Homo sapiens: one gene and its partners. The protein of the gene in region 3 interacts with the protein of the main gene of each other region in a pairwise test. Each region holds a gene or a part of one and is shown on either strand. Other genes may lie near its edges.

What was found.
Region 1: the proteins of KRT76 (region 3) and TSGA10 interact in binary tests that used the Homo sapiens proteins (3 or more experiments, as listed by UniProt).
Region 2: the proteins of KRT76 (region 3) and CFAP206 interact in binary tests that used the Homo sapiens proteins (3 or more experiments, as listed by UniProt).
Region 4: the proteins of KRT76 (region 3) and IQUB interact in binary tests that used the Homo sapiens proteins (3 or more experiments, as listed by UniProt).

What each region holds. Positions count from the first base shown.
Region 1 is NC_000002.12:99,151,898-99,159,251, reverse strand, and holds the start of TSGA10 (testis-specific gene 10 protein), read left to right. Parts: upstream 1-4,309; 5' UTR 4,310-4,559; exon of another isoform or gene 4,560-4,928; coding exon of another isoform or gene 4,929-4,961; intron 4,962-7,354. UniProt on the Homo sapiens protein: Plays a role in spermatogenesis. When overexpressed, prevents nuclear localization of HIF1A.
Region 2 is NC_000006.12:87,410,962-87,418,102, forward strand, and holds part of CFAP206 (cilia- and flagella-associated protein 206), read left to right. Parts: intron 1-2,848; coding exon 2,849-2,939; intron 2,940-4,724; coding exon 4,725-4,913; intron 4,914-5,707; coding exon 5,708-5,866; intron 5,867-7,141. UniProt on the Homo sapiens protein: Essential for sperm motility and is involved in the regulation of the beating frequency of motile cilia on the epithelial cells of the respiratory tract. Required for the establishment of radial spokes in sperm flagella.
Region 3 is NC_000012.12:52,774,260-52,781,270, forward strand, and holds the start of KRT76 (keratin, type II cytoskeletal 2 oral), read right to left. Parts: upstream 3,087-7,011; 5' UTR 3,033-3,086; coding exon 2,433-3,032; intron 1,344-2,432; coding exon 1,129-1,343; intron 1-1,128. UniProt on the Homo sapiens protein: Probably contributes to terminal cornification.
Region 4 is NC_000007.14:123,451,637-123,454,680, forward strand, and holds the end of IQUB (IQ motif and ubiquitin-like domain-containing protein), read right to left. Parts: exon of another isoform or gene 1,296-3,044; intron 1,290-1,295; coding exon 1,107-1,289; 3' UTR 557-1,106; downstream 1-556. UniProt on the Homo sapiens protein: Adapter protein that anchors the radial spoke 1 (RS1) complex to the A microtubule of outer doublet microtubules in axonemes. The triple radial spokes (RS1, RS2 and RS3) are required to modulate beating of the sperm flagellum.

The DNA of each region.
Region 1 (7,354 bases), on a different chromosome or scaffold from region 3:
CTCTACTAAAAATACAAAAAATTAGCCGGGCATGGTGGCAGGTGCCTGTAGTACCAGCAGCTCTGGGAGGCCGAGGCAGGCGGATCACGAGGTCAGGAGATTGAGACCATCCTGGCTAACACAGTGAAACCCCGTCTCTACTAAAAATACAAAAAATTAGCCGGGCATGGTGGCGGGCGCCTGTAGTCCCAGCAGCTCTGGAGGCTGAGGCAGAAGAGTGGTGTGAACCCGGGAGGCGGAGCTTGCAGTGAGCCGAGATCGTGCCACTACACTCCAGCCTGGGCGACAGAGCAAGACTCCGTCTAAAAGAAAAAAAAAGAAAAGAAGGTGAACCTGTCCTTGCCTTCAAGAAACAAGTACCTCCACAATCTAGTGGGAGATACTAAAAAACAAGTAAGGCAATAATTAAAATACAGTGTCCTAAATGCTGTGATAGGTGTTAAGTACAGTAGAGCGCCATCTAATGCTCTAATTAGTGGATGTGACATTGAAGCTGAGACATAAAAGGGATAAAGAAAAGAATTCTAACAATGTGCAACAGCTTAGTGGAAAAGGAGATAGGACCCATGCAAATAATTTAATTCTACTGGCTGGTTATTAGGAATACAAGAATGGGGAGTTAATAAGAAGGCAAGAGAAGTAGATGTTAGATTATAAAGAACCTTAAATCCAAGTGAAATGCTTGAACTTTATTGCCCAGGATGGAGTGCAGTGGTGTGATCACGGCTCACTGCAGCCCCGACCTCCTGGGCTCAAGCAATCCTCCCCCTTTAGCCAGCATGTGCCACCACGCCTGGCTATTTTTTTTTTTTTTTTTTTTTTGTAGAGATGAATCTCACTTTGTTGTCCAGGCTGGTCTCAAACTCCTGGGCTCAAGCAGTCCTCCTGCCTTGGCCTCCTAAAGCACTCGGATTACAGGCATGAAGGCTTTGGATTTATACTTCAGGGACACCGCCTAGAGATTTTAAGCATGGAGAATGTACAATACTTGGCAATAGGTTGAATTAGGGTGAGAGAAAGAGAAGTCAAGCATCATGTCCTTTATGATATAATGATTACAAGCTCAAACCAGAGTGCCCTCATTCAAATCCCAACTCTATCCTTTATCAGTTGAATGACCTAAGGCAGATTACTTTTCTATGTCTCAGATTTGTTATCTAATATGTGGATAATGACAGGACTCATCTCATATTATCAGGCTGAGTCTGATGAGCTAATACATATAAAGTGGTTAGAAGAGTGCCTGGCACTGAAGAAAGTACACAATATGTGCTAACTATTTTATTAATATTATGCCCTGATTTCTGGCCTGGCAAAGAGGTGAAATTTCCTAGGACAGATTTTATAGGAAGAGGAAGTATGGGGTTAAGATAATTGGTTCATTTTGACTGTTGAACTAGCGGCCAACGGCACAGAGCTCAATGGATGGTAACTGAGGCCACAGGAAGGTGGTTCAGTGAGAAGATTTAAGGGCCTGCGACATAAGACTGAAGAGCAGCAACATTTAACGGACATACAGAAGAAGGAGGGAGAGCTCCCAAAGGAAGCTGAGGATAGAAGAAAAGGCAGAAAAATTTTAAATATGCTATTATGGAAGCTTCAAGGAGACAAGATGGTCAACAGTGCCAAATGCCAAAGATTGAGCAAATAAGATGAGGGTTGAAAAGGATCTATTAAACAGTATCAAGAAGGTTATCAGTGATCTTGGTAAGAACCAGATGTACTGAGTAAATAGGAGGCCCAAGGTGGATACAATGAGGGTATTCTAGTTGTGAAGTGGAAAAGCTAGGGCAGTAGGTAGAAAGGAATGTGGAGTTAGGAGAGGACTTAAGATGCAATAGATCTGAGCATGTTTAGATGCTGGTAGGGGAGTCAAGAGAGGGCAACACTGGAGAAGGGAGGTCCTTGAGAAAGTGATGGTACTGGGATCCAGAGTTCAGGTAGGGGCAGCCTTAAAGGAGAAAGTAACAAATAGGAGTGGTGGTCACTAATAAGCTGGATGGTGTCTGTGGATATGGAAATTGTCAAAGATCTTGTGAAATATCTTTTCCCAAGATTAAGGCTCTTACTCTTGTCTGCATGTGCAGAGTGTGGCAGGATGGCAAAGTAGTTAAGGACTTAAATTTTTAATCCTGGCTCTGCCACTTACTAATGACTTTAGGGAAGTGGTTTAACCTCTAGCTGCTTCAGTGGCCTCAGACGTCATAAAATGGTTGAGAGAATTAAATGTGTTAATATGCATAAGCCATTCATGTTTGGCAAATATGAAATGTTAACTGTTATGACAGGGTTCTCCCTTTCCCATCTCTATTCTGTGCTTACTGTTCCTATCATATACCATGTATTCCCTCAAGTGAACAAAGATTCCTAACCAAGACACATCAAAGTGGCATTTACCTTGATAAATTAACTATAGTCCAAGATATTGACTTTGGTCAAAAATGTGATCTTGTTAGGGTTCCAGAATTGATCCAATTCATGTATTGAGCCAATGCATGTATTTTAATAGTGCTAAAAATATCTCTCTTCATCCAGGTATTGTATATACAGTGTGAATAAAACACAACAAAGGTATTAATTCAACAAAGTTTTCATCAATTACATGACAGACATTGTTCTTAGCACTTGGGAATCATCAGTGAGTCAAATGAATAAAGGTGATAAGGAGGGCTATTAAAAAAAGTAGATGGCCGGGCGAGGTGGTTCACACCTGTAATCCCAGCACTTTGGGAGGCCAAGGTGGACAGATCACCTGAGGTCAGGAGTTTGAGACCAGCCTGGCCAACATGGTGAAACCCCGTCTCTACCAAAAATACAAAAATTACCTGGGCGTGGTGGCAGGCGCCTGTAATCTCAGCTACTCGGGAGGCTGAGGCAGGAGAATCGCTTGAACCCGGGAGGTGGAGGTTTCAGTGGGCCGAGATGGGCTGGGCAACAGAGCGAGATTCAGTCTATTAAAAAAAAATGTAGAGCTGATAAAGGGAGGATTGTAACTGTGTATGTGAGAAAACTTACATTGCAATTTTAAATAGGGTTGTTAGGCTAAGCCTCATTAAAAAGGCATCATGTGAGAAAAGATGCAAGAAGCTGTTCTAAGCACCTGAACACGTAAACCAATAAACAGACCTCAGTGAGGATGTGACATTTCAGTTGAACCCCGAAAGATAAGAAAAAATCACACAGAGTGAGAAAAAGTGAAAACAAAGGGATGTCCAAAAATCCCTGACTGCCAGCTTATTGATTTACAAAGAGAACTATAGACCATCTATCAGATATTCAGATGAGCCTGTGCAATTATTCACTGTAGGTCTGGTGACAAGCCAACTCTTAAGTTTGCTTGGTGAATACATAATCAGAAAAGGACTGAGTTACATGATATGAACGTCTGACGGAATGGGCTCTGGGGAAGACACTTCCTTAACTCAGGAGAGCCCCTGCTCTTAAGCCGGGATACCCTCTCTCCCCTAGAGAAGGCGTGGATTCATCTGGCACAGGTGTGCCCCTCTTTTTTTATTCTATGCTCCAGTAGCGGATCAGACCCCGACTGAGTAATGCACGGTATTTCAGGATATTTCACAGTCGTTGGGATAGTGTCAAGCCTTTGAAGTTCTGGTTAAATTTTGTTCCTTCAAAATCACTTTGAATCTTTCTACTCTCACCCTTTAATGACTAATTTTTTGAAGTTTTTCCTCGGAAGACTTCCTTACCTTCCATGTTCTTGGGACACTTCGCTACCTCTGCACTGCCAAACACGGCTCCCCATCACTGAACTGAAAGCGAAAACAGCACAATCCCATCTATCTTTCTAGGCAGGCGCAGCTTCTTCATAAGACCTCGCCAAGACCCTATTATTTTGTCCCCTCTCTAATGATATACAACTTACTCAGAATCTCATTACGGTCGTGTGCATGTTTTACTTCGCCCTTTTGGCTCCCAGGGGGCGTGCACACAGCTAGCGTCCAACATGTTTTACGATATTTACCCTCCCTCCTGTGTTCGGGATCAACCGTTCCTAACAGTGAAATTAGGTCGTCCCAAGTGCTGAGGAGAAAGTGTGCACACAAGAGGCTTCAACACCGGCGGAGGCGACCCGCAAGTCCTGACCCACCGCCAGAAACACCGCGCGCGCCCAAGACCCCACGGCCGCCCACGCGCTACGGCCCGCAACATCCCGGTTTGAAGCGTTTCCGCTTCACCCACCTGCGGCTTCCGGTCGTACCCACGGCCTCGTGAGGGCTCGAGCTGGAAAAGTGCGTCATACGACCCCGAGCAACCGGCAGGCCTTGCGCGCGATGCTGCCCCGCCCCCTGAGGGCCGGCCCCCTGAAGCGCAAGAGAAGGAGGGGCGCGCAGGGATCGCGCCTAGTCTCTCCGCCTGCGGAGCCGTGGGGTCCCGGCAGCCCGCAGGAGTGCTAAGTAAGGGTCCTTCAGGGCGGGAACCAGGTTCCAGGCAGGGACGCAGGCTACGTTCGAATAAAAGTACCGAAGGTCATAAGGCCCCAGTTCAGATGGGACTTCCCCGCGTGACAGCACAGAGATAACGGCCAGCCCTGGGCGAAGGTAGGAGAGCGGGCGTGCCAGGTTGGAGGGGTCATTTCGTGGAGCGAGTTTAGGGGGAGCCCCCAGAAGCCCAGAGCAGTCAGGTCACACGACGGGCAGGAAGGAGTACCAGCAAATACTTTTTATTGAGCATACAGGTATTACGCTGGGTCTTTACATATCTCCTCCAAATAAGTGAGTCCAAATGGCAGGTAACTCGAAAGGTGAGAAATTCAAGTCAGCTTTGAAAGACACATTGCATTTAAAGGAAAAACGGTATTCGCAGATGATAATACAGGATGGAGTGGATCAGAAAACACACTGAGGCTACTGATCATTCCCATTTGCCAACTCACTGCAGTTGGCAAGAAAACTCTGTGACTCCATGAGATGGGAAATTACACCAGCAGTCAAGGTAGCAAGGTAATAGTTTCGGCTAAGTTTTGCTGCATAACAAACTGCCTCAAATAGTGGTTTATATCTCTAACGTGGGCAAGGTGGGTGATTCTTCTGCTAGTTTCTCCTGGGCATATTCATGTGGCTTCATTCAGCACAGGTTGGCTACGCTGGGCGGTCCAAGATAGCCTTATTCATGCTCTGGCAGGTGCTGCCTGGCTGCTAGGGCATCTCAATTCAGGCCTAATCTTGGAAGCAGCGCCTCAGCCATATTCTATTGGCCAAAACAACAACAAAGCCAGCCCAGAGTTAAGGCGTGGGGTAATGGACTTCACCTCTTGATGAAAGAAGCCCAAAGAATTTGTGGTCACCTTTTTCAACCTTGCACAGAAATTAATCTCTCCTTCAGTTAAAATAGAAACCACTAAGACTTGCCTCTTGGAGTAAGAATCATTCAGTGTTCAGTTTGCTGATGCTGATACGGTAAATGACCAGGGCTTCATATAAAGCTACAATGAAGACATAATGACACCTCCTTTCTTTATTATCACACCTTTTACCAAGGTCACTCTGAGTAAGTCTATCTTGTATTATGCAGGTGGGAATGAATTTTGTTCAGAGTTAACTGCACTAGGAATTTTCCTAGTTATTATTAAAAACAGTCACAGAATATTGTTGCTCTTTGCTTATATTACTTCCTTCTAAATTCCCTTTCTCTGAAATCTGAGATGGTACAACTTTGGTTTTTTTTCCTAGTTTCTTGATGAAGAGGTTTTAAAGAATCCCATTCCCTCCTCCCTGCTCCAGGACTTCTGTCCCTTGGTTATTCTTACCTTTACCTACTTCTTCAGCTTCTCCACTGGAACCTTTCAAGTGACACTCAAACATGCTGTACTCTTTAACAATCCTCCAGTGACCTCATTTCTCTTTCCACTTGTCATCCTGTCTGCTACCCTTCTGAGCCAAGCTTCTTGGAAAAACTGCTATACATCCAGTATCTACTTTCTCACTTCCCATTCATTGTTTCAACGTACTCCAAAATGGCTTTTCCCCATTATTCCAGCAAAAGTGCTTTTGCTAAGGTCACGGGTGACATTCATATTGCTAGATCCACTGGACTTTTCAGTATTCATCTAAGTGTTCATTTGACTACCTCAACCTGGAGATTCCTGTGGACAACTTTGACATTACCCTGTCAACTCCTCAGTCCCTTTTGCCAGGTTTTCCTCCAGCCTCACTGCCAACTCCGCAGTCCCCTTTGCCAGCTACCCTGATCTAGTCAGCCCTAAATGTTGGAGTTCCTCAGATCTTTATCTCACACTACATTTTCCTTAAGCAATTTCATTCATTCTATGGCTCTAAGTACCATTTCTGTATACAACTTCAAAATTTATATTTTTTAGTTCCATAGATACAACTGCCTTGTAAACCTGGTAAGTCTAAAAGCCATGCTCCTGAACTCACTCTTTCCCCCCAGGGATCCTGCATGCATAAAGGCTAAAGCCTTTTTTGCCAGAAGCCCTTTCTTCTTCCTCACTTTCCGCTTCCAAACCATGACTACATCCTGTCAGACTTCACCTGGACTCTATCCCCTTCTCTCCACTTTTATGACCATCACCATCATTCACTTAGACAACCATGTCACTGCAAAAGCTATAAATGTCCTCAGAGGCTGCTCTATGGAGTAGCCATTCTGTTTCTTTACTTTCTTAATCAACTTGCTTTCAAAAATGTCCTGAGATACGCTTTCCCATTTCCCACGTTAAAATCAAGTTTATGGCCCAGTGGGAGGATCACCTGAGGCCAGGAGTTTGAGACCAGTCTGGGTAACATTGTAAGACTCTGTCTCTAAAAAAATACAAAAACATGCTGGGTATGGTGGCACATGCCTGTAATCCTAGCTACTAGGAGGCTGAGGCAGGAAGATCGCTTAAGAACAGGAATTCGACACTGCACTGAGCTATGATCGCTCCACTGCACTCCAGCCTGGGCAACAGAGTGAGACCATCTTAAAAAAAATCAGTTTTATGTGGTATGTCTTGTGTTGTGTTATGTCCCTCTGAATGCTATACGTTTCTTCATGGCATATCACAATTTGCATCTTATATAATTACTGTATAATCTCCTGTCTTTCCTAGTAGACAGGCACAAAACTCTACAAGGCACTGGCTATTTTATTCACTACTGTATCTCCAGCACCAAGCACAGTGCCAGGCTAGGTGAACAAATGAATGATTTATGTATTTTTTTTCTCTTCTAAAGAATTACGTTCTGTAAATAATAAAAAGCATTGTCTTTTTGGCTTATGTCCCATTCAACAATTGTTTTTCACTCTCAATATTCCCTACAAACACATTTGTTTAGTATTTTTCTGATTAATAAAATATAGCTTCCCCCCGGAAAAGATGCCCTTTCCTCTT
Region 2 (7,141 bases), on a different chromosome or scaffold from region 3:
TCTATCACCTTCTATCCAGAAAATAATAATTTTCCCAGAATCCCTCCCATCTACTTAACATTTATTGACCAGAATGATATTGTAAGTGACCCAGGGACATTTCACTTCTTTTTTCTTTCTTAGATGAATAAATCCTTGCCCCAATCCAAATTGAGGCTCTGTTAGTAAGGAAGGAAGGGCAGGGAAATTGGGCAGGTAGCAGCATCTGCTACAGTATTTTAGTGAAACCTTGTTACTAATGTCTTACATTGCAAACATTAACTAGTTCGTCATATACTGTGAAGTTAAATAGAACTAAATTAATTTGCATTTCTCTAATGCTGAGTGATGTTGAGCATTTTTTTCATGCTTTTTGGCGATTTGTATGTCTTCTTTTGAAAAATATCTATTCATGGCCTTTGCCCACTTTATAATGGGGTTATTTGTTGTTGTCGAGTTGTTTGAGTTCCTCGTAGATCCTGAATATTAGTCCTTTGTCAGATGCATAGTTTGTACATATTTTCTCCCATTCTGCAGGCTGTCTTTTCACTCTGTTGATTATTCATTTTGATGTGTAGAAGCTTTTTAGTTTATTTAAATCCAATTTGTCTATTTCTGTTGCATTTACTTTTAAGTCATGAATTCTTTGCGTAGGCCAATGCCCAGCCCCCTAGGTTTTTTTCTGTTATTTTTATAGTTTCAGGTCTTACATTTAAGTCTTTAATCAATCTTGAGTTGTTAATTTTTGTATATGGTGAGACATTGGGATGGGTTTCATTCTTCTGCATATGGTAATCCAATTTTCCCAGCACCATTTATTGAATAGGATGTCATTTCTCCAGTGTATGTTTCTGTTGACTTTGTCAAAGATCACCTGACTGCAGGTATGTGGCTTTGTGTCTGGATTTTCTATTCTGACAATGAGATACAATCTTACACCAGTTAGAATATCTTTAAAAAGTAAAAACATAACAGATATTGGTGAGGATGCAGAGAAAAGATGGTATAAAGCTTGTTCTTAGCAATAGGGGAAGTGATTGTGGCAGTCAGAAATTTTATTGGAAAGCCGTGGAAGAGAATCCAGGAGGGGCAGAAAATAAGTTGTTCTCCTTGTCATGACCCAAGAAGAGTTTTCCATTCCCCCCAATTCCCCAACTCAACTAAGTTGGAAAGAATCAAGCCAATATACTTTTAGTACGACAGGTACATAAACTAACAACATATGTTATATTCAAGTGACAATTTTTTTCTCAACTAAAAATCATGTGGATGAGCTATTTTTTTAAGTGTGCATTTTAGAACAGTACTTCTGTATGTGGAGGGATCCAGGTGCACAGGCTTCTGCAAAGACATAGTGTCCAATCCTCAGTCTTGCATTCTCCCCTCCCTCCTCCCAGGAAAGCAGGGCTGGTGCTCAGGGAGATGGGTTGAGAGTGATGCTGCCAAGTGCCTGCCAGCTGCAGTATATTCAGCCTACAGAGTGAGCAGTGAAGGAAGTGGGGGAGGGAGGTGACCAGTAGAGATGAGAGAAGGAAAGAAAAACTGAGGTTGATATTCAATATAAAGAGGCAAGGCAGAGAAGGGGAATGAGCCATCTATGTGGGGGCTCATAGGAGAAAACAGACCAGGAGAAGAAATATCAAGGGTAGAACCAGAGAAATTTTGTGAAGAGAGGGGGGTGGTTGCAGCAGCTTTTTAATTTTAATTTAATTTAATTTAATTATATTTTATTTTTTGAGACAGAGTCTCGCTCTGTCCCCCAAGCTGGGGTGCGGTGGCATGATCTTGGCTCATTGCCATGTCCACCTCCCGGGTTCTCAAGCGATTCTCCTGTCTCAGCCTCCCGAGTAGCTGGGACTACAGGTGTGTGCCACCATGCCTGGCTAATTGTTGTATTTTTAGTAGAGACGGGTTTCACCATGTTGACCAGGCTGGTCTCGAACTCCTGACATCGGGTGATCTGCCCACCTCTGCCTCCCAAAATGCTGGGATTACGGGTGTGAGCCACTGCACCAGCTGCAGCAGCTTTTTATAAAATAAAATGAGGAGTGTTGTTCAAGGCACAAATAAATAGTAATGAGGAACTCTAGAAGAGTTTTAGACTGGAATATAAGCTTTGTGGAACATTTACCCACATTTAGACTGCTCAAACTAACCAAAACATCAGGTTTCTTGCCTTCAACTAGACTACTAGCCACCTGGCATGATGATTATTGGTTAACTCAAGGGAAATAACTTATTACTTAACAAATGTTATTGGTAGTAAAGATATGGAATCAACCTAAGTGTCCATCAACAGATGATTGGATAAAGAAAATGTATACACACATACACACAATGGAGTTTTATTGAGCCATAAAAAATAATGAAATCATGTCTTGTGGCAACATGGATGGAACTGGAGGCTACTATCTTAAGTGAAATAACTCAGAAAGTAAAATACCACATGTTCTCACTTATAAGTGGGAGCTCAATAATATGTACCCAGGGACATAGAGAGTGGAACAGTAGACATTGAAGACTTGGGAGGGTGAGAGGGGAGCGAGGGATAAGAAATCACTTAATGGGTACAATGTCCACTATTCAGGTGTTAGCTACCCTAAAAGCCCAGGCTTCACCACTACACGCAATATATCCATGTAACAAAATGACACTTGTACCCCCTAAATCTATAAAAATAAAAAAAGTTATTGGTTAAATAAACTATAAAGCCTGAAGTCCTCAAGGAGAAAAAAAAAATAAAAGGGGTTATTGGTGAATCAATATCAGGAACCACTGCTTTTCCCTTTATTTTTGAAAATAACTTTAGGAAATACTTGACTGTCTCAAAAACTATAACTAGAAGTATTCATGGGACATTCTTTTCTAGCTTTGTATGACTCGGCTATTGGATACTAAAAATCCATCCCTGGACACTATTAAGATGCAAGTCTACTTCGATATGAATTATACGAATCGAGGTAATGTATACTACCTATTTTTATACTTAAAAAATTTCATACTGTGTTTCAGCTAAGAAGGGCTTCATTTGGTTGACAATGAATTTAATTGTTTAATCAATTTAACAATTTAATTTTTGGCAATCAACTTTGAGGAATACAACGTTAGAAATGCTAAATGAAAAAAAACCATTGGCCTTTGTGAGTGTTAAAAGTGAATTCCAATTATTGTGCTCATAATTATTGTTTCCAGTGGCACTAATACATAATAATTAGGAATTCAGCCCATTGAAGTTAAAAGTTTTTAATTTATAGATTTTCTTGTTCCTGGTTTATGTTATTATCTCATTATAATTACCTAAATTATGTAACTATTCAAAAATGAACGATGGGGAGTTTAAGTTTAGAAAACGTTTCAATATGTAAATTTTTTTTGAGACAGAGTCTTGCTCTGTCACCCAGGCAGGAGTGCAGTGGCACGATCCACAGATCACTGCAACCTCTGACTCCCATGTTGAAGCAATTCTCCCACCTCAGCCACCCGAGTAGCTGGGACTATAGGTGTGTGCCACCATGCCCAGCTAATTTTTGTATTCTTAGTAGAGACGGGATTTCACCATGTTGCCCAGGCTGGTGTCGAAATCCAGGCCTCAAGCGATCTGTCTACGCCTTAGACTCCCAAAGTGCTGGGATTATCAGTGTGAGCCACCATGCCTGGCTCATTATGTAAATAATTTAATGCATACATCAAAGACAAGTTGGAAACAAAAGAAAAAGGAAAATGTAATTCTCTATGGACTGCCTCTGCACCTGCTATATAAAACAAGTCTATTTCTCTATGGACTACCTCTACCTCTACTGTATAGTACAATCATTATTAACAATTTGGTGATGTTTCTCTTTGTTAGTTTCAGTTATGCTACCTATGTAAAAGTATATATCTTGCGTTTTTGCTTAATAGTGAAATTTTAAAGCAAGAAATAGTCATATAATTGATAAAATTTAACCTATAGATTTTTAAATTTGTTATTTAAACATATTTTTAATTTGCAAAAAGTTCTCAGTTGGTTTTGTGGCAAGGGTATAGGTATAAACTGTGCGTGGTGGATATGTTAATTATTGACCTTGTAATAGTAATATGGGTTGTCTTATAGAGTCATTGCAGAATTGTACTTGCAACAACTCAGGGAACATAGTGTCCTGCCAAAGTGAAGCCTGTCCCTCAGCATATCACAGGAGGAATGAGGAGGGATACAGTTCTCGATGCAACATCGTATTATCAATAATGCTTTTCAGAGGAAATTTATCTAGAACTGAAATAAAAATACACGTAACCGAAAGGAACATATATACTACATATATATTTCTGCTACTATATATGCTTATGTATAGTATACTACATGTGCTTACATATAGCATAAATATATAATATGTATATATTTATTTTTTCATATAGTATTAAAATTAAAATATATAATATATATTTTGTAGAAATGGTCTTCTTTATTTTCTGCTTAATTGGGAGGTTTTAGCCTTTTCTGATATCTCCTGTTTAGTTTGGCTGTTTAAAGTCTTAGGTGTTTTGACAAAGTATTCCATTTAAGTCACTGTAATAAATCTTCCCTCCTGGATTTTTGTCTTGAGGCTACATGCTGGCCACTGTTTTTTATTTCATTATTACAGCTTAAGAAATTACTTGTTTTCCTGAAGTAGAATTGCCATATCCAATCCAGTTTTTCTCTAGTTCTTACGTAAGAAGAATTCTAAAAATTAAATATATAGAACATTGTTATTTGGCAATTTTAGTGGAATTTCTCGAAGAACATCACCGGGTCCTAGAGTCTAGATTAGGCTCTGTTACCCGAGAAATTACAGATAACAGAGCATGTGCTAAAGAAGAATTGGAAAGCCTCTACCGGAAGATTATCAGCTATGTGTTACTCCGCTCTGGCCTTGGATCCCCTACAGACATCAAGACTGTCAGAGAGGTAACAGGTAAAAAGTATAACCAATTTCCATTTCATAAGTGAAAATATATGGTCATTGTATTTTATAAAACATGTTAAATTAGAAGTGTTAAAGATTGAAGTTCCCTTTTTATCTGAAAAAAAAAAAAAAATCAGCACAAATGAGTTAAAATGTACCCAGTCTCCTTTTACACTGTGTATCCATTCTAAAACTCAAGTAGCACCTCTAGAAAGTGAAATATTGCTAATTTTCCTAGAGCTGTACATATCTAGGCACCTATTACACCCCATTAGAGAAACATTGATAGTAGGATTGAGGGTACCAGGCTGATTGAGTAAATGGAAAAGCTGAAAACGGATATTTCATATTGATGAAAGAAATTGAGTCTGTCATTTAAAATGGGTGATGGAATGGGGCACCATTTTATCCTTAGGAAGTCTTTGCCCTCTTTCATCCTTTAAAATGAGGAATAGGAAAAATGTCTAGCTCTCCTATGGCTTTCTTCCATAATTATTTTAAAGCATCCATTTTTTGGCTCAGATCCCTAATTAGAAAGCTTGTTTTCATGCCCATTGCCAAAAAGTTACTGCTGGATGCTTAATTATTAAAAATGGACATGAGGCAATGGCATAACTCTCAGTAATCCAGCTTTGATGCGTGATAAGTTTTATTATGTATCCTATAATCAGGTATCAGTAATTTAAAGAATCATATAAGTAACTCAGACCCTTAACTTGCTGCTAAAGAAAAACGTTATTTAACGTCTGATATCTTTATTCTATCATTTTGTTTTCCTTTTTTTTTTTTCTGGTTTATTTTAGCTGCTCTACAGAGTGTTTTTCCTCAGGCAGAGCTTGGGACATTTCTAACTCTTTCTAAGAAGGACAAAGAACGCCAGCTGAAAGAACTCACCATGATTGTTACTGGAATTCGTTTATTTAACAGAGACTGTGGAAAAGGAGGAGAAGGCATTGATGATTGTAGGTATATCATTAGATTAATTCTAAAGGTTATGTATGTTTAAAATTTAACTTGCACAGTGAGGAAAATAATAAACAACACACCACTGGCATTCTTAAATTTAAGATTTGCATTTTTTACTGTTTCCTTAAGAATAACTACTGTTTATAATGTGTAGTGATTTTTACTTTTGCTGGGGCAAGACTTTACATTTTATGTACCATGAAGCTAGTAGGAGAAAGTGAATCAGTGAAAGCAATGAAGGGTCCTGCTCAAAGCTAACCTCCCAGTTCAGCAGGGCTTTGTGTTCATTACTGCAAGTCCGTAACCAAAAGGGAGTACAATTTAGTTATTTAAAAAATAAAAATCTTCCTGAAAACAGTTCCTGGTGCAGTTAATGGAATGAAAAGATCCACGAGGAGATATTTCAAATCTCTAAATTCGGGGGCATTTACTTTGTGGTTATATACTTAATGCATTCTTTATAAGTTTGAAAGTACTTATGAAATATTTAATGAAGTACCTACCAGTAGAAGTAACTTCCTTATGAAATTTGGTACTCCTGTAGGCCCACTGATAAGGTGTTAGTGTCTTTCACCAAATCACTAATCTAGTATAAAAGGGTAATTTTTTCTATTTTAAAAACTGTTCTAAAAAGTCAAATTTCCATTTTCATAAATGACCCTCCCTTGCTAGACTATTCTGTCATTTTTCACCATCCAGATGAGTTTCTTAACAAACGTTCCTTTTTTTTTTTTTTTTAATAACTAGAAAAGAAGATATACAAAAGGAAGGGTCAGTGGCTTTTCTGGAAGCACATGGTTAACAACACATAATACCAAACTCTGCCTATTCTCTGAACTCTTCTATATTTAGTGGCAAAAGCTGACCTACTGTAACTGGGTTATCATTCTGTTAATATCTTTTGTTTGAACTTGTTTTAGATTCTTTTTTTTTTTTTTTTTGAGATGGAGTTTCGTTCTTGTCGCCCAGATTGGAGTGCAGTGGCGCGATCTCGGCTTACTGCAACCTCCGCCTCCCGGGTTCAAGTGATTCTCCTGTGCTGGGATTACAGGCATGCGCCACCACGCTCAGCTAATTTTTGTGTTTTTAGTAGAGACGGGGTTTCACCATGTTGGCCAGGATGGTCTCAATCTCTTGACCTCGTGATCCGCCCGCCTCGGCCTCCCAAAGTGCTAGGATTACAGGTGTGAGCCACCACCCCCGGCCTAGATTTTCTTTATGTTGTGGGACCCAGGAAACACATGCCTCATTATTACTAATTTGATTGGGGA
Region 3 (7,011 bases):
CAGAGGTATGGGCAGTCAGTGAGAGGGCAAACTTCAAGGAGCCTGACCACTTGCCTAGGCTCTTTGATTGACTTTGCAAAGCACAATGTGTGCATATGGAACCCAGTGAAATGTGTGCTCTCATTGGGCATTTCTGCCTATTTCCTCAGTTTCTGTTTTCCTTCATTACAGTTACTTCTTATAGGAATTTCAGTTAAGAAAGAATTCATACCTTCTGAATGCATCAAAGTTGTGGGATTCCTGCCTGTTAAGGACTAAAATCTACTACCAAGAGTTTGTATTTCATAAAGCTTGAGGAATTGGACTGATTCTAGGAGAAAAGAGGTCTCTAGGCAGGACCTCTTTTTTTCCTCTAGGAGAAAAGAGGTCTCTGGGATCTCTTTTGGGAATATGAATCTGAGTTGCCACTGAATTCCCAGAGCCCAGCACAGAGCCTGCCACAGAGTGGGTGCCCACCACGTTTGTGTGGTTGAATTGGAATAGGGCCTCTGCAGAGCAGGTGTGCCCGTCCCTGTGGGTTCTGATCCCTGGGGAAGTCGGGAGCTCCCTCCCACCTTGAGAGGCCCAGTTTGCTCCTTGCAGACCTCAGCGGATATGGACTGCAACTTGGAACGTGGAGGAGGAGGCAAACCAAAGCTGCAGAACAGGAGATTGGACGGGACACACTGATAAAGGCCTTTACCAAGTGCAGCCCTGGACCTCTGCCTAGAATCCCCAGGAGCTAGGGGAACACTCACACTCCTGGGGCCTGTCCACACCTATGATTCAGAATACCTAAGACTGGAATACAGGAATACGCATTGTTGACAAGCATCCAAGGTGATTCCTGTGTCCAGTCAAGTGTGGCGGACTCCCCATCCTAAAGGATTCTAAACTCTGGGAGGACTCTTTTGTCCCTCTGGGCTGGAATAGGAGGGGGCCCATCTGGAGCCTGAAATCTGTGTCATAGCCACATGGGAGTCTCAGTCCCCACCCTTTCACCCCCTTCTGCTTTGTCATGTTTCACTCAATAAATCCATCCCAGAGTATTGACTGAAGGCACAGTTGGGAACAGTTGAAATCCCAAATTAGGACCACACCTCCCTGCTAATTCCCCAGAAGGGGAAACTTCCCAGGAGGAGCCCTCACTTCTTTTTGAAGTCTTCCACCAGGTCCTGCATGCTTTTCAGCTCTCCCTCCAGGTTCCCCCTCTCCCCTAGAAGTGAATCTAGCTGCTTGCATAGGAAGCTGATGTAGGATTCAAAACAAGGCTCCAGGCTGCTGGGCCCTGAGCCTGTGGTCTGCTGCTGGAGCAGTTCCCACTTGGTCTCCAGGACCTTGTTCTGCTGTTCCAGGAACCGCACCTGCATGAAAGAGGGGAGAAAAGGAGTCAGCCCCTTGAGTTGGGCATGTGGGGCTGCCCATCCCAAATGTAGAACTGTGGAGAAGGAACCCAGTTCTTCAATCTACAATTTCCCCTGTTTTTTAATTTGGGAAGGATGAAGATTTAGCAAAGGGAGAGCTAGAATTTGTTGAGTGATTATGCCTTACCTGTTATTTTCATGTATTTCCGTCACATTTAATCCTCACAACCACCTATAAAGGAGTTGCTGTGATCCCCATTTTGTAGATAAGGAAACTGAGACTCAAAGAGTTTAAGTTTCCCAAAGTGACAAGTCTACTGAGTGACAAAGCTAAGAATCAAACCCAGGACTGTCCTGGGTCTATAGGGATCCTTCAGAATACCACTGAAGGAGGTAAGCACAAATAAAGTTTGTCATTGTTTTTTAGATGTAAGCTTTTTTCAGCTCCATAAAGGCAGTGAATACAGTCAATGAGGTCTAACATTTCTTTAGAAGTTTCACATAGGAAGACCTCCTTTCAGTTATTCAGCTTGCAGCTGAACTAGAATTCACTTCAGATCCTGGGCTCAGTCCCACACAGACCCAGAACACCCTCCTCTGCCCCAGCATGGACAGCTCAGTTTAATTATTGGCTGAAGCACAGCATCATCTGGAAGGTAAGGCAGCTGCCAATGCACCTCATTTAGATGCAGCCTCAAGATCTGTGCTAACACAAGGTTTTGATTACCAGCTACTTTGGATTATCAAGCAATTGCTTTTCAGGAGAAATTAAAGTAACTGCAATAATTTCATGACTAAAATGGCTCATTCTTCAAAAAGCTAAGAGCATGTTTGGACCCCCACTTCATTTACCCTCATCTCATTCTTAGCAGGAAACCAGGACCAGGAATTCTTCCCCCCATTTCACAGCTGGAAAAAGAAGGCCCAAAAAGTGAAAGGGGCATGATCACTGTCCTGTAGGGACCAAGACAGCACCAGGACAAGAGCCAAGCGCCCCTGCCCTGTGTCTCACAAGTCCCCATGGCATCTTTCTACACCGACCCCTGGGCACCCCAAACCCTCCACAGCACCTCTTGGCCTTGCCCTCACCTTGTCGATGAAGGAGGCAAACTTGTTGTTGAGGGTCTTGATCTGTTCCCGCTCCTGGGCCTTTACTTGCCCAATCTGGGGGTCGATCTCCACATTGAGGGGCTGCAGGAGACTCTGGTTTACAATCACTTCCTGAATTCCCCCAGGAAAGCCCCCAGGGCCAAAGCCACCAGGACCACCAAAGCTGCCAGGCCCACCAAATACACCAGGACCACCAAAGCCACCAGCTCCACCAAAGCCACCAGCCCCTCCAAAACCACTACCTACTCCTCTGCCACCACCAAAGCCACCACCATAGCTGCCCCCAAAGCCACCTCCATAGCCACCTGCAAAGCCACAGCTGCTCCGCCCTCCCCCAAAGCCTCCAGCCCGGGAGCTGCCAGCTGCCACGCTGATGGAGATGCTCTTGTTGCTGCCCAGGTTGTAGAGGCTGCGACTGCCAAAGCTGCCTGCTCCGCTCCTGAAGCCACAGGCCCCTCCACCAGCTCCCCCAGAGCGGGCCACACAGCTCATCCTGCTGCTGCCGGAGACCACAGCAGAGCGGCCAGAGAAACCCTGGCTCCTGCCACTGAAGGATTTCTTGCAAACTTGTCTGTTCATAGTGAGAGAGCTTGGAGGCAAGCTAGTGATCACTTAGCAAGAGCTGAGAGGGATAGGGACAAGAGAGGAGACTGGCCTTTATATAACAGGGAGTTTGGCTTGGCAAAAGGAGAGGCGAGCAATTAGTTGAGAATCATCTTGGGTTTGGTTTGCCTCGTAGGCATTAAGTTACTTCTTGGTTCCCAACACACCTCAGAGATAATCCTCTGGGCCAGAGTGGCTTTGCTTTCTTAGCTTAATCACCTAAACTTGCCTCAGTTGACAAAATGCTGGAGCTCTCCTCCCTCCCTTTTTGTGCTGTCCTCAAGGGTTTCAGGGAACCCAAGCAGCACCTGATCCAGCAGGAGGAAGCAGCTTTAGACACCAGGTGATCCGGAGCCATGAGCTCCCTGACACAGGGGGGTGAGGACCAGGCAACCTCTTCTGAGTGGGCTGGGTCCCTCCCTGCAGCACCACAGTGTCCACAGGCTCCCACAGTGGCTGCGCCCGTCTCTGCCATCATTAGGCCTTTTCTTCCAGTGGCATGTCACCTGTTCCCAACTCTTCAGAGGGCCTGGAGTGGGAGCGGAAGTGAGAGGGGCCCAGACCCATAGAGTCTGCTCTGCCAGCACCTCAGCCAAAGGCATCCATCTCAGCAAACCTGGAGTTTGGGCTGAGAAATGCTACTTATGGGGAAGAAATTACAGTGGAGGTAAACACGTCTAGCTCCTGGAACAGGGAGCAAACAAGTATGAGGTTTGGGAAGAAGAGGGGGCATGCACTGTGGAGAGCCTCAGACCAAGCCCTCCCCCCACCATCCTAGACTGACAGCAGGCAATTTCTGGACCCAGAAGCAAGAGGAGACAGAATCTGGTAACCCTCCAGCTGGCTGGTAGAGTCGGCTCAAGCACCCCATTCATCTTAGGAGGACAGTGTATCTTGTGTCTAGGCCCCAACTCAGATCTTCTGGAGGGGATCCCCTCCCTGCTTTACCCCCTGGTCTGGGTCAGATGCCCCTCCTTGTCTTCCCACCATACCCTGTACTTTTCCCATCGTGAACCTGACATAAAGTATACTTACCTGCTTACTTGTCCATACCCCTCCGGTCCCTGAGCTTCTTGAGGGCAAGGCTTGAGTCCTGCCCATTCTAAATTATCCTAAATGTCCAGCTCCTAGCATAGGGTAAGCACAGCACAAACGTGTTAACTGACTGATGACTGATGTCTAAGAATGCAAATACCTAAAACCAGCTCCCACCCCAGCCCTATGAATGAAAATCTTCAGAGGAAAGGGTTGAGAGTTTGCATTTTTAACAAGCCCTCCAGGTCATTCTTATAATGCGGAAAGTCTGGGAAACCCTGGTCTAGACCATGGCTACACCATATGGGCCAGGAATAGGAGGATGGAGGACCCCTGATGGCAGAACGAATGACACATGATGAGTTACTGCTGTCACTGCCAAGAGCTCAGCAGACCCCAAACCCCATCCAACCCACCTCCGCACCCAAACACACCACACAGGGCAAGACCAAATCCTCAGGTTGTCGTCTGCATAGGAGATTTCACACATATGACAGGAGCAGGTGGCACTGATTCTAGACTCCCTGAGAAATTGGTGGGGGGTCTATCTCCAGAATTCCAGCCAAACTGGCAGTGGGCGCTCTGTCTTTCTGAGTTTCTGGTTTCTGAACAGTCCAGTCTAGGGGAGAGAATTGGTCTGAGAACCTTGGAACCACCTTGAGTTGAGTGACTTCAAGAGCTTTGCAGCTAATTCTCAGCTCTCTGCTCTGCAGCTTATCTGGCGTCAGATCCCAGATCCACTATCCACCAACTTTTAGGCCTTGGACAAGTTACTTAACTTTTATGTGTCTGCTTTATCAATTGTAAAATGGGGCTAAGAATGGCAAGTACTTTATGGGGTTGTTGTGAGCATTAAACAAGTTAAGTAAATATAAAATGCTTAGCCCAGTGCTTGACACATAGCAAGCACTATATGTTTAGCTACTTGCCAGTACTCTATTTGGGGGAATGGAGAAGCAATAACATGTTTGGCCCTGGCTGTTCTCAAGACAACTTTGCATCCCTAAGAAGCTCACCAAAGGTGAGGAAAGGAGGCTGAATAGGAGTGAAGAATTAGAAACCCAACTTGGGATAGAAAAGACTGAGACTTATACTGACTAGGGTTGGGTTGGGTGACCTTGTGCCACGATTTAACGTAAGTCTGTGTTCTAATCTGCCAAACACTTTCCTACCTTACTGGTTTGTGGTGAGACTTGCAGGATAATGTAAGTGAAAGTCCTTTGAAAATCACAAAATTCCACACAGGAGTAAGATAGCTGTGGTATAACAGAAAACCTGTCATCATCATGGAATTCCAAAGACCTGGGTTCAAATCCTATGTCTACCTCTCACTATGTGGTGACCTTGGACAAGGTACTTGACTTCTCTCTCTCCTTATTTTTAAAAGGTGGCATTGATCCTACTTGCAGGATTGTTTTGAAATTTAAATACATAGTATTCAGCAATATATGTTTGGATTTTTAAATTAACATCATTCATCCACAGATAATCCAGGAAGAGGATTTCATGTTGAGTTCTTCCATGAGACATTTATACTCCACCCATCAATTGAATGACAGCCCCTCCTGGTAAGGTCTTTCCTCATATCCTCTGGATCCTTTAAAAGCAGAAGATCACATGCTCTTCCTGGAAAGAAAGCTGAGCCAGGCTCAGCTGAAGCTCCAGGTGAGAGTCCGAAGCAAACAAGAACAGACATAAATGTCTCTGATTCCCTTCCCTCCCTTGGCTGCAGTACTGAGGTGGTGGGTGGCAGCCTCTGATGTGTGGCTCACCTCTGCCACCCTGGCCTAGGCTGGAGAAGCGTGGTGGAGAAAGGTGATGCACAGATCACAAAAGCGCGGGTTTGGGCTGGGTCGCCTAATCCATGTCGCATGAGCCTGCCAAAGCATCACCTTATTTAGCAGATGGGGATTGTCTTCTCAGCAGTTGAATGGAGCTGCTGGAAATACCCAGAGTTGCTATCCTCACCAACATTGCCCTCATTCACTGTAGGATCTTTCAGAACAGTATCTAAAGGGTCTGCCTACTGCCAGCAATCTGAGTTCCAATCCCTCACTGCCAGAACATTCTGTGTAAAGCTTGCCAGATGGCTGAGCACCCTGGATTTTTATTTCCCCACCTATAAAATTGGGGGCACTAAAACCAAGGAGTTATTCCCTCTAACCAAATTGCTCTCTGGTAGTCAACTGCAGTGAGAAGACTTCAGATTGCCTGTAACATAATTATGAGTGGAGGAATGCATCATGAGACAGTAGTCATTATCCTTGGCCAAAGTGAGCAGTCATCCCTCTCCACCACCATCTGCTGAGGATGAGGGAGCCATGGCTGCTGCCTCTTTCTCCATGGAGGTTCGCAGATCCCATTTTCAAGATAATCACCAATTTGTTCTCAAAAATAAAAAAAGAATAATTAACGTTCTGGGTATGCTGCCCCTGGACTAGGAATTAGCATTCTTTTCTTGTTGAAATAAAAGCTTGTCACTAGTGAAGCAATTTTAACCAATGAACAGTAAAAATAATTACCATATAGAGCAAGATTTATAGTGAAAGCTTGATAAAGAAGCAAACATCTAAGTACAACTAAGTCCTTATGTTACTAAGGTCTTAGCTGTTAGCAACCACAATTTGTTCTGATTCTGGTCTTATCTCTACACTTGATTAAAATACACACCAGCTCACCCCTCATTCTTTATCTGGTACTTGGATCTCTCCCAGGGCTTATGCAGGGCAGAATTCTATCTCCCAAGATGGCCCTGATTAAAAGGTTCTGTGATTACATAAATTTGGGAAATGAAAAATCTATAGCTCTTTCCTGGGATTTTAGTAAAGTTGTTTAGTATATTAAAAGCCCAAAGAAGTCCTATAGAAAATAATGTCTTTGCCTTAATTTAATCACAGCTTCCCAAATTTAACAACAAAAT
Region 4 (3,044 bases), on a different chromosome or scaffold from region 3:
GGGTTTGGCCAGCGGGAAACCCAAGCAGGACATTGGAGAAAGGAAGAAGTATGAAATTGTATATTTCTCTAGTTCATGAGATTCCCCTATGCCTGGCCGTTCCCTTTACAGCTGGTCATTGATCCTTTCAGTTATCTTCTTTACACTCTTCCTGGGTTCTCAGACTTTCTCCCCAAGTTCATTTGAGACTAAAGGGAGAGATAGCCTGTCTGATACTAGCCCTGGGTTCCTGCACTATTCTTTTAGTTTCCCTACACACTACCCACACCTTATAATAAGGCCCTTTGTAAATAAACTCTCCTTGGCTTAAGCTATTTCGAGTGTGCCATCCATTTCCTGTTAAGACTGACTGGCAAACCATTGTTCATCACTGTAGGTCCCTAACTTATATGTGGTCAAGGTCACTCCTTTGGTTTATTGGAGAAGGGCGTTGTTATGGTTTATTTAACCAGTTTATTCTTCTTATAGTTTCACCATTGCCCACAGGGAGTTTTTCTTGCATATGCTAATAGCTCCATTGTTTACCCAGAATGAAGGTTTTTTGTTTATTTATAAATAGTTTCAAGTGTTGTTTTATTGGGATTATGAGAAGGATGGAAGGTGAAAGCAGACGATAAACTGCAAAGATTCAAATGCCTATACTAAAATATAAATTTTTTTATCCTACTTAAAGAAGTTTTCAAGAAAGAGCACTTTATAATGTTTCCTCCCCTCCACATACTGATTAGCTTCCTATAACTACATTCTATCTAAAATAAATAACTTGAAAGTTGTCTAGTTTTTATTTGGCTGTTTGTTAGATTTTAACTCTAATATACTTGAAAAAATTTAAAAAATTTAATGTGAAAACACATTTTAAAATGTTTTCTTTACCCCAAAATATTAATTTCAGTAACAAAATTGCATTTCAATTTAGCACCAACTTCCTAACAAAGAATACTTACTTATATAGAAATGTTTTCTCTTTATATAACTCAAAATACTATGAAAAACAAAAAACAAAATCAATAAACAGATTAAATTCCATTTCCATACTCTGTGACCTCTGTATTACCCTATTAGCAGTGAACAAAATGCCGATCATCAAACAAATACTCCTGGATCACCTAATGAGGAGGCCTCTGGGATTCTATAATCTTAGGTGTTGTGTCTGAGTGATACTTCCATCTGATCTCATCAATTTCACCATCATCAAGTATAAATGAAGCCAGCACTGGAACCTGAGAAAAATAGTTCTTAGCCAGGATATGTTTGTGTTTGATCTTGTGAATAAATGAGCGTTCATATCCCTGCAAAGAAAAAAATCAAATTCTAGTAAATATCACAGATATATTTTGCCAGGTAAAAATACTGTCATGCCTCGGTGCCTTTGCTTGTCAATTCTTTCATCCCAGACTACCTTTATTTTTCTCACGTTGTCTATCATCATTCACGACTCAGCTCCTATGATACTTTAACCTGGAAGTTTTCCCCAACTCTCCCTCTGACTTCTCTAAGTTTAAACCACTGCTAGTTATCAACTCAATATTCATTCTTTCTCCCATTTGAGCCAGAGGCCTGATTTTGTATAGGGTGTGATGTGTCTAGCTTTCTTAGCCCTTATTCTAACTGGGGGTATCTAGTTAGAATATATATATATATATATATATTATTAATGTTATAGATATTGAGGTGAGAAAAAACAAAAATAAAAACAAAACAAAACAAGGGAAGTCTGAGAAACTGTCACCACCAAGAAGAATCTAAGGAGATAACTAAATATCTTCCAAGATTATTTAATTATACACAATATATATAACCTTATATAATTATATATATATAATTGAATAAAGCCTTTGAAAGGGACTTTTGAGAGTGGGAAGACTCACCTATCAAGCACCTCTAGCCTTTTGCCATTACTGAGAGGTACATGTAATGAAGAAGATGAACTAGCTATCCTATCACTAAGAGCCCACCAAGCATGAGAGAGAAAGCTGAAGATTAAATATGGCTGAGGAAAAAGTGAGATGGCCTGAATTTCTGAGAACAAGGTGGAGCCACCATACTAGCCCCAAACTGCCAACCTTTGAACTTTCTTGTTACATAAGAAAACTAAACCCACATTTGATTAAATCATTATAAATTGCTTTTTCTGTTCTTGTAGCTGAACCTAAATGCAACTGAGACAACAAAAAGTTATATTCATTAAATTTTCTTGTTTCTCTGTAATTACTTAGTACAGTATTTGGCACATTCAAAAGTAAATTCTGGTTAAATTAATAAATATAATCTATTACCTATTAATCTTAATTGGCCCTCTTTTCAATCAAATCACAAATACTACCTATACTTCTTCCTAAAATTTATTTTCTGAGAATAAGACATTCCCTCAATAAAGGTCTCTTCAGAGGGTCAAATCAAAGATAAAAGAAAGTCCTGGGTGAAAGGACCAAAAGAGCAGAAAACATTATATAGGAGTATCCTGGGCTTATTAAAATTTCCTCTTAACAGAAAAATTTACTAGGTTAAAATATTCATCTTTTGAGCTAATCTAACTTTGTTTCTACCACTTCTTAGCCCATATTTCATTCAAGAAAAACTAACACACTTTATTATGCTATATTAACTTACACATGTACAGAACTTTATAGGTTTTCAAGGTGCCTTTACAGTACTATAAATTATTAAAGATGAGATAAATTATGATATATGTGTTCAAGGCACTAATAAGTAACTCTTAAATAACTGAATATATTTCCATATTATATTATTTATATTGTTAAGTAAAGCAAAGAAACTAAGTCTCAGAGTCATTTAATATGAAATTCCTGCTACAGTAAAAGTATATATACTTACATACACATAGAAAACTTCCAGAAGGATTTCAATAGATTATTATATACCTAAGAAATAGTAGTTATCATTGCAACATGGAGATAGGGATGGGTGGACATCAAGAGACCTTTTTTCCCATTGAAATAAGGTCCATTCTCTTGAAATAGCCATGTGATGGTTTTAAACTATGTTCACAAATTCTTTGGGTGTACAAATAGTTCTAAGAATAT